Linked DNA regions of Homo sapiens. The protein of the gene in region 2 purifies or fractionates together with the protein of the main gene of each other region. This does not show direct contact. Each region holds a gene or a part of one and is shown on either strand. Other genes may lie near its edges.

Region 1 (3,500 bases), 5.7 Mb from region 2:
ACCCGAAAATTTTGAAAGGTTAAGGATCTCACCTTACTTCATATATCCATCCCTCGACAGCACAGGATTAAGTACAGGGGTATTGGTCTTTAAACTTATCCTTAGCAACTCTAGTTTTACAAACACACACACACCCTGTGGCACATGGTAGGCCTAACCTAATCTGGTGAAGAACAGATCTGGAGATGTAAAGCACGTCCTGTGCCATAGGATTAGACAACCCTCACCTAATCTTGGCTTGCTCTCTGGCCTTTTCACCGGGCCCAGCCTCTCCTAGCCTCTGTGTACCACCATTTCCTGTTTAGACTAATTCCCAATCTTCCAGTAGAAGGCAATCAAGTCATGGGGCCACCCAGTTAAAACCTAGTCTCCCATAAAACATTTTCAAGGCAGAGGGGGTTTCAAGAGGACACTATGGCAGAAAAGCCAGCTCTTATTGGCAAAAATGAGGTAGTTCAATAGGCTGTGCACTCCAAATAGTTGCTCTCCACGGTGGCAAAAACAACAAAAAGTAATTCCTGCTGCGCAGACCTGGAGCTGCTGCTGGCTATCCCTGAGATTGCTCATGTACCTGAGAACACAGTGCAGGAAATGAGGGCCTTAGATTAAAATATACAAAAATACAAAACCAGAATATTTATATTAAGGAAAAAAAGTTAAAATGCACAAGATACGTCATTCGCACACAGCTAGTGCAGTTGGCATCCTGGAGAAAGTGGGACCCAAGGTGCAGTATCCAAGGGAGCAAATAAATAAAATCACATTGGCCCAGAATGGGGCGGGGGTGAGCATAGAGCAGCAGGTCTGCAGCTGTTCCCCCAAACACCCTTTTTGCCATCATCATTACCCATTGCTTGGGACAGCTGCCAGCACCCTATCCCAAAAGTGGGTATGAGGATACAAGATGTGAAAAAAAAACAATGCTTACTCCTGAGAGATCTCCTTCCACAGAATGTAGTGGCTTGGCTCCATGAATCTGGTCTTATACTTAATCATTTCACTCTGGCATGGGAATTATTATATATCCTTCTTTAAAAGGAAAACAACTTCCCTATCCAGGCCACTTTCAAAAGCTGGAAATTCTGGGGATGGAGACTCAAAGTATGCAGGTTGTAGGGTGATTCCCCCCTCCTGGTTGCCCCCAGAACCCTCACTTGCATTTGGACAGAGCATGGTTGGAGTTCCTTTGACTCACCCTTTCCCCCCACCTAGAGGGAAGAAAGGGTGATGGTGTGAACCCAAGCCTGAGATACATGGCAGTGCCAACTAGCCCCAATGCACCCTATTCCCACTTTCTCCACTCTGCCTGCTCCTCAAAACTTCCTGATAGCAAAAGAATAGCCCCCACCCATTGTGGCTCAATTCTGTGCCTCCGGGAGCAGGGTAGGGCTGTGGATTTCTTCTTCTTCCTCTCGAAAGTAGGTTGGCTTTCCCTGTGCACTAGGGCCCTGCTGGGCCTTCAGCGGACATGAGGCTACCATATGGCTGATGCTCTGGCAGAAGTGGCACTTCTTGGGCTGGGGTGGCAGCTTGCATTCCTTGGCATGATGATCTAGACCTCCACAGTTGTAGCACCTAGTACAAAGCAAGATCGTAAAAGTAAGAGAAAGGAGCAAGAAGAGGCCAGATGCCTCCCACGAATGAGGACACCTGGGCTCTGGTACAGGTTTGTCACTTACTTCCCTTCCCAGAGACCAAACTTCCCACTTGCAAAAGGAGGACTATTACTAAATGATCTCTAAGTCCTTTCCACATCTAATTGTCTAGGTGATCTCTTCAGATTCATGTCAACTTGAAAATACCAAGATACCAGAAATATAAGTTACTGACCCCAACTAGGAACTGCAACTTGGGGGATAGGAGAGATTCTTCCATACCCTTAATATAGGAGAAATTAAAGAAGCCAAATTATAGTATCTGTTCAGAGCTAAGGGGCTTTAAGCCCAAGCAAGATTAAGGAAACCAGCCATTTGCAGACCTGGTAAAGCAGCAACAGATATAGATAATACTGTCTTGTCCCACCATTTGCAAATCTATGATCTCCTTTAATTCTAAAACCATCCTAGGATGTTAGTATCACTGCCTCACTTAACAATTGAGGCTTAGAGACCACAGAGCAAACTTACTTGTCCCAAGTAGCACTAAGTCACCCCCAGTGGCCTCCTCACCTACTGCCCTTGCCCACACCTATTGCAGGCGCTCAGCCTTCCAGATGCTGCCAGGGACCACAGGCTTCCCTTTGTCTTTTGCAGTGTGACCCAAAAAGTGACAGGATTGGGAGACTGGGGATGCCCTTAGCAACCTATATAAGCTGCCTTCCAATCCATACCTGTCTCCTTTTGATCTGCGCTTCTGCATGCTCTTTCCTTTTGGCCGCCTCTCACTCCCAATACAGAATACTCCACCAGGTCCGGTGACACGGATGGATTCCAGACCCTTGGCTGACTTCTTAAAGGTGAACTCCACTGCCTCACCCTCCTTCAAGCTCCGGAACCCTTCCATGTGCAGCTTACTCTGGTGAAGGGAAATGCAGTAAATTTTAACATTAATTTCCATTATTATACCAAAAGACAAGGAACTCTTATTCCTGTAGGGTAGGAATCAAATGTGATGGTACTCCTATTTTACTGGTAAGGAAACTGACTCAAAGAGTCACTACGATTAAGAACAACAAAGTCTACCAGTACATTAACAAAAATCGTAATTATATAAGCAGATGCCATGACATTTTTGTAGCTATTCAGGTTTAAAGTTCTTAATAAAATAGAACAGAGGGCCGGGTACGGTGGCTCACACCTATAATCCTAGCACTTTGAGAGGCTGAGGCGGGAGGATCACCTGAAGTCAGGAGTTCGAGACCAGCTTGGCCAACATGGTGAAACTCTGTCTCTACTAAAAATAAAAAAAATTAGCTGGGCGTGGTGGCGGGCACCTGTAATCCCAGCTACTTGGGAGACTGAGGCAGGAGAATTGCTTGAACCCAGGAAGCAAAGGTTGCAGTGAGCTGAGATCACACTATTGCACTCCAGCCTGGGCGACAGAGTGAGACTTTGTCTCAAAAACAAACAAACAAACAACAACAAACAGAAAAATTTGTAAATACAAGCATTTGGAAGAAATCAACAAATATAAAATTACGAAATTTAAAGTGTCACACTATAGAGGTTGCAGTGAGCCAAGATGGCGCCTTTGCACTCCAGCCTGGGCAACACAGCAAGACTTCGTCTCAAAAATAAATAAATAAAATAAAAGTAAAAATAGCTGGGCATGGTGGCTCAGCCACACACGGTGGCTTACGCCTTTAACCCCAGCACTTTGGGAGGCTGAAGCAGGTGGATCACGAGGTCCAGAGTTCGAGACCAGCCTGGCCAACATGGTGAAACCCTGTCTCTACTAAAAATACAAAAATTAGCCGGGTGTGGTGGTGGGCGCCTGTAATCCCAGCTACTTGGGCAGTTGGGGCAGGAGAGTTGCTTGAACCCCGGAGGCAGAGGTTTCAG
Region 2 (2,542 bases):
GCCACACTGACTTGACTATTGGCAAAGTTGGCAATAATTTCATTTCCAAGCCCTCTGCTCTCTTAAACATGTGCTTGGCTGGGCACAGTGGCTCACACCTGTAATTCCAACACTTTGTGAGGCCAAGGCAGGAGATCAACTGAGGTCAGGAATTCGTAATATGCCTGGCCAACCTGGTGAAACCCTGTCTCTACTAAAAATACAAAAATTAGCTGGGCGTGGTGGCACATGCCTGTAGTCCCAGCTACTCGGGAGGCTGAGGCAGGAGGGTTGCTTGAACCCGGGAGGCGGGGGCTGCAGTGAGCCAAGATTACACCACTTCACTCCAGCCTGGGTGAAAGAGTGAGACTCCATCTCAAAAATAAAATAAAAATAGTATCTGTACAGAGCCCGATGTGGAAGAAGCTCAGCTAGTGTTAATCGTTATGACTATTACTACTTACATTAATAAGCCAAACTTACAACTATACTTTATGAGACATACTCTAGGCACCACAGAGTTCTCTTTTGCTAAGCAAAGATTTAATAGTGAACAGTGTTAATTATACATTATATACAATATCAGGAAAAAAAAGAGTTGTAATTTTTGAGGAAAATCGCTTCAGCCTTTTGAGGCCTCCTTTGACATACCAGTGGTTGACAAGACAGAATTAAGAACAGTTAAAACAGTTAAAAAGCTGATAAAATTAAATCATCAAAGGTAGAAAGTTTTCCAACAGGAAAAAAGCCACTGAAGTTAACAGTCTTGTGGAAAAGAACAGAAGAAAGAATAGGGCCAGGTATGGCGACTCACGCCTGTAATCCTGGCACTTTGGAAAGCCCAGGTGGGAAGATCACGTGAGGCCACGAGTTCAAGACCAGCCTGGGCAACACAGTGAGGCCCCATCTCTAGAAAAGATAAATTAGCCAGGCATTTATTAGCTTGCCTGTAGTCCTGGCTACTTGGGAGGCTGAGGTGGGGAGAACTGCTTGAGCACACGAGTTCAAAGCTGCAGTGAGCCAAGATCACACCACTGCGCTGCAGCCTTAGTGACACAGCAAACTCCATCTCAAAAAAATAATAAGTAAAAGAATATAGTTATAAAGACGGTAGAGATTAATTTCTTAAGAAAATAATGCAGCTGATTAGGGGTACTGTTTAACCATCTGTAATGGCTTCTAAACAAATCTTTGTCAAGTGGTTCCTAAGCCAAAACTTCAACAGTTCTGCTTCCTTGGCTTTGGCTCTGCAGAAGTGAGTGACCATCTGTTCCACCATGAAAATGCAAAAGCAAAATCTACATGCTAGAAAGTAATGTCAACCAGAACCTCTGGGGAAACAGTTTAATGGTCTTTTCCAATTAAGAATAGAATTTCTTTTCTTTCATAGCTAAAATTAGAATTTTTGCTTAATCCAAAGAAAGATAAATTAATCAGGTTCCAAAGATAGGAGACCTTAACTATAATCCCAAATTTTTAAAGTTTCTCTTAGTTAAATGCAGTATTTAATGAACATGGCTGGTGAGTTTCGTTCTCATGACGTATCAAGATGGCAAGAGGGTCACAGCCTGAGAGAGAATAATTTCACAGGCTCTTTAAAGTAAGTATTAATTAAGAATTGGTTAGCAAACCTTGACAAGGGCTAACAAAATTTGGAAAAACAGCAATGATGAAAAAACAAATGTCAAAAGGTGTTAGCAGATTGTTTAGTTTTGTTTTCATGTCATTTTCCTGTTAATTATACCCAAAAGACATGATTAAAACATACACCTGTTTCCTAAGATTTATACAGGACCAGGTTTCCTTTAATTAAGTCCATGTGGATGCATAGTCAGAATCCATGTGCAATGAATGCTTCTGTCATAGTGCTAAGGAAAGGTCTCCACATTTCTCAACAATAGTATCTTTCCTTCCTCATTTTGTAGGTTAAGAAGCCAACAATCTCTCTCCCAGCACTTTCTGAGACTCATTTATCAAAGGTAGCTTGTAGGTAGTTTCAGAGTGTATGAAACACTGTAAATGAGGTCACTAAGCCACCAACAGAGTACTGAAGCTATTGATCCATGCTAGAGATTTCTGGGATTACCTCTGGGGTTTGTTGTTCCCCTTTCTGAACATGGAAGTAAAAATTATAAATGTGTTCTGCTCCTTTGGAATGCCTGGAAGGGAAAAATCAAACATTCTTTTATCTCAATGTAAGTAAGGCGTATGTCTTTGACAGTTGTGGATGTTCGTGGAAGAGTGCGATGACCTTCCTGTCTTTTCCCTTTACATCACACTGAAACAAACTGTCCTTATAGTTAACAGAACGTTAGAGTTGGAAGAAACTTTAAATGATCTAAACTTCTCAGCCTGTGCTTAAGTGCCTGGTGTGCAATACAGCCACCAGGTGATTATTCAGTAAGTCTCTTTAAAAGCAGTATCATAAAGCAAAGAAACCAACCAAAATCTCCCAACTTTTGATTCCAGAAGAGTACAGAATTCTGAGCACAGGTACCTAACATCCATACTATTAAGAATCATTACTTGCTAGAGAGCACAGGAGTAATTACTACAATTACTT

The links. Proteins that work in one complex are often made in the same cells at the same time.
Region 1: the proteins of HP1BP3 (region 2) and LIN28A purify together in Homo sapiens (affinity purification with western blotting; 2 studies listed by BioGRID and IntAct, with this or other methods). This does not show direct contact.

Annotation. Positions count from the first base shown.
Region 1 is NC_000001.11:26,424,317-26,427,816, reverse strand, and holds part of LIN28A (protein lin-28 homolog A), read right to left. Parts: intron 2,515-3,500; coding exon 2,330-2,514; intron 1,576-2,329; coding exon 1,359-1,575; 3' UTR 1-1,358. UniProt on the Homo sapiens protein: RNA-binding protein that inhibits processing of pre-let-7 miRNAs and regulates translation of mRNAs that control developmental timing, pluripotency and metabolism.
Region 2 is NC_000001.11:20,739,766-20,742,307, forward strand, and holds the end of HP1BP3 (heterochromatin protein 1-binding protein 3), read right to left. Parts: 3' UTR 501-2,542; downstream 1-500. UniProt on the Homo sapiens protein: Component of heterochromatin that maintains heterochromatin integrity during G1/S progression and regulates the duration of G1 phase to critically influence cell proliferative capacity.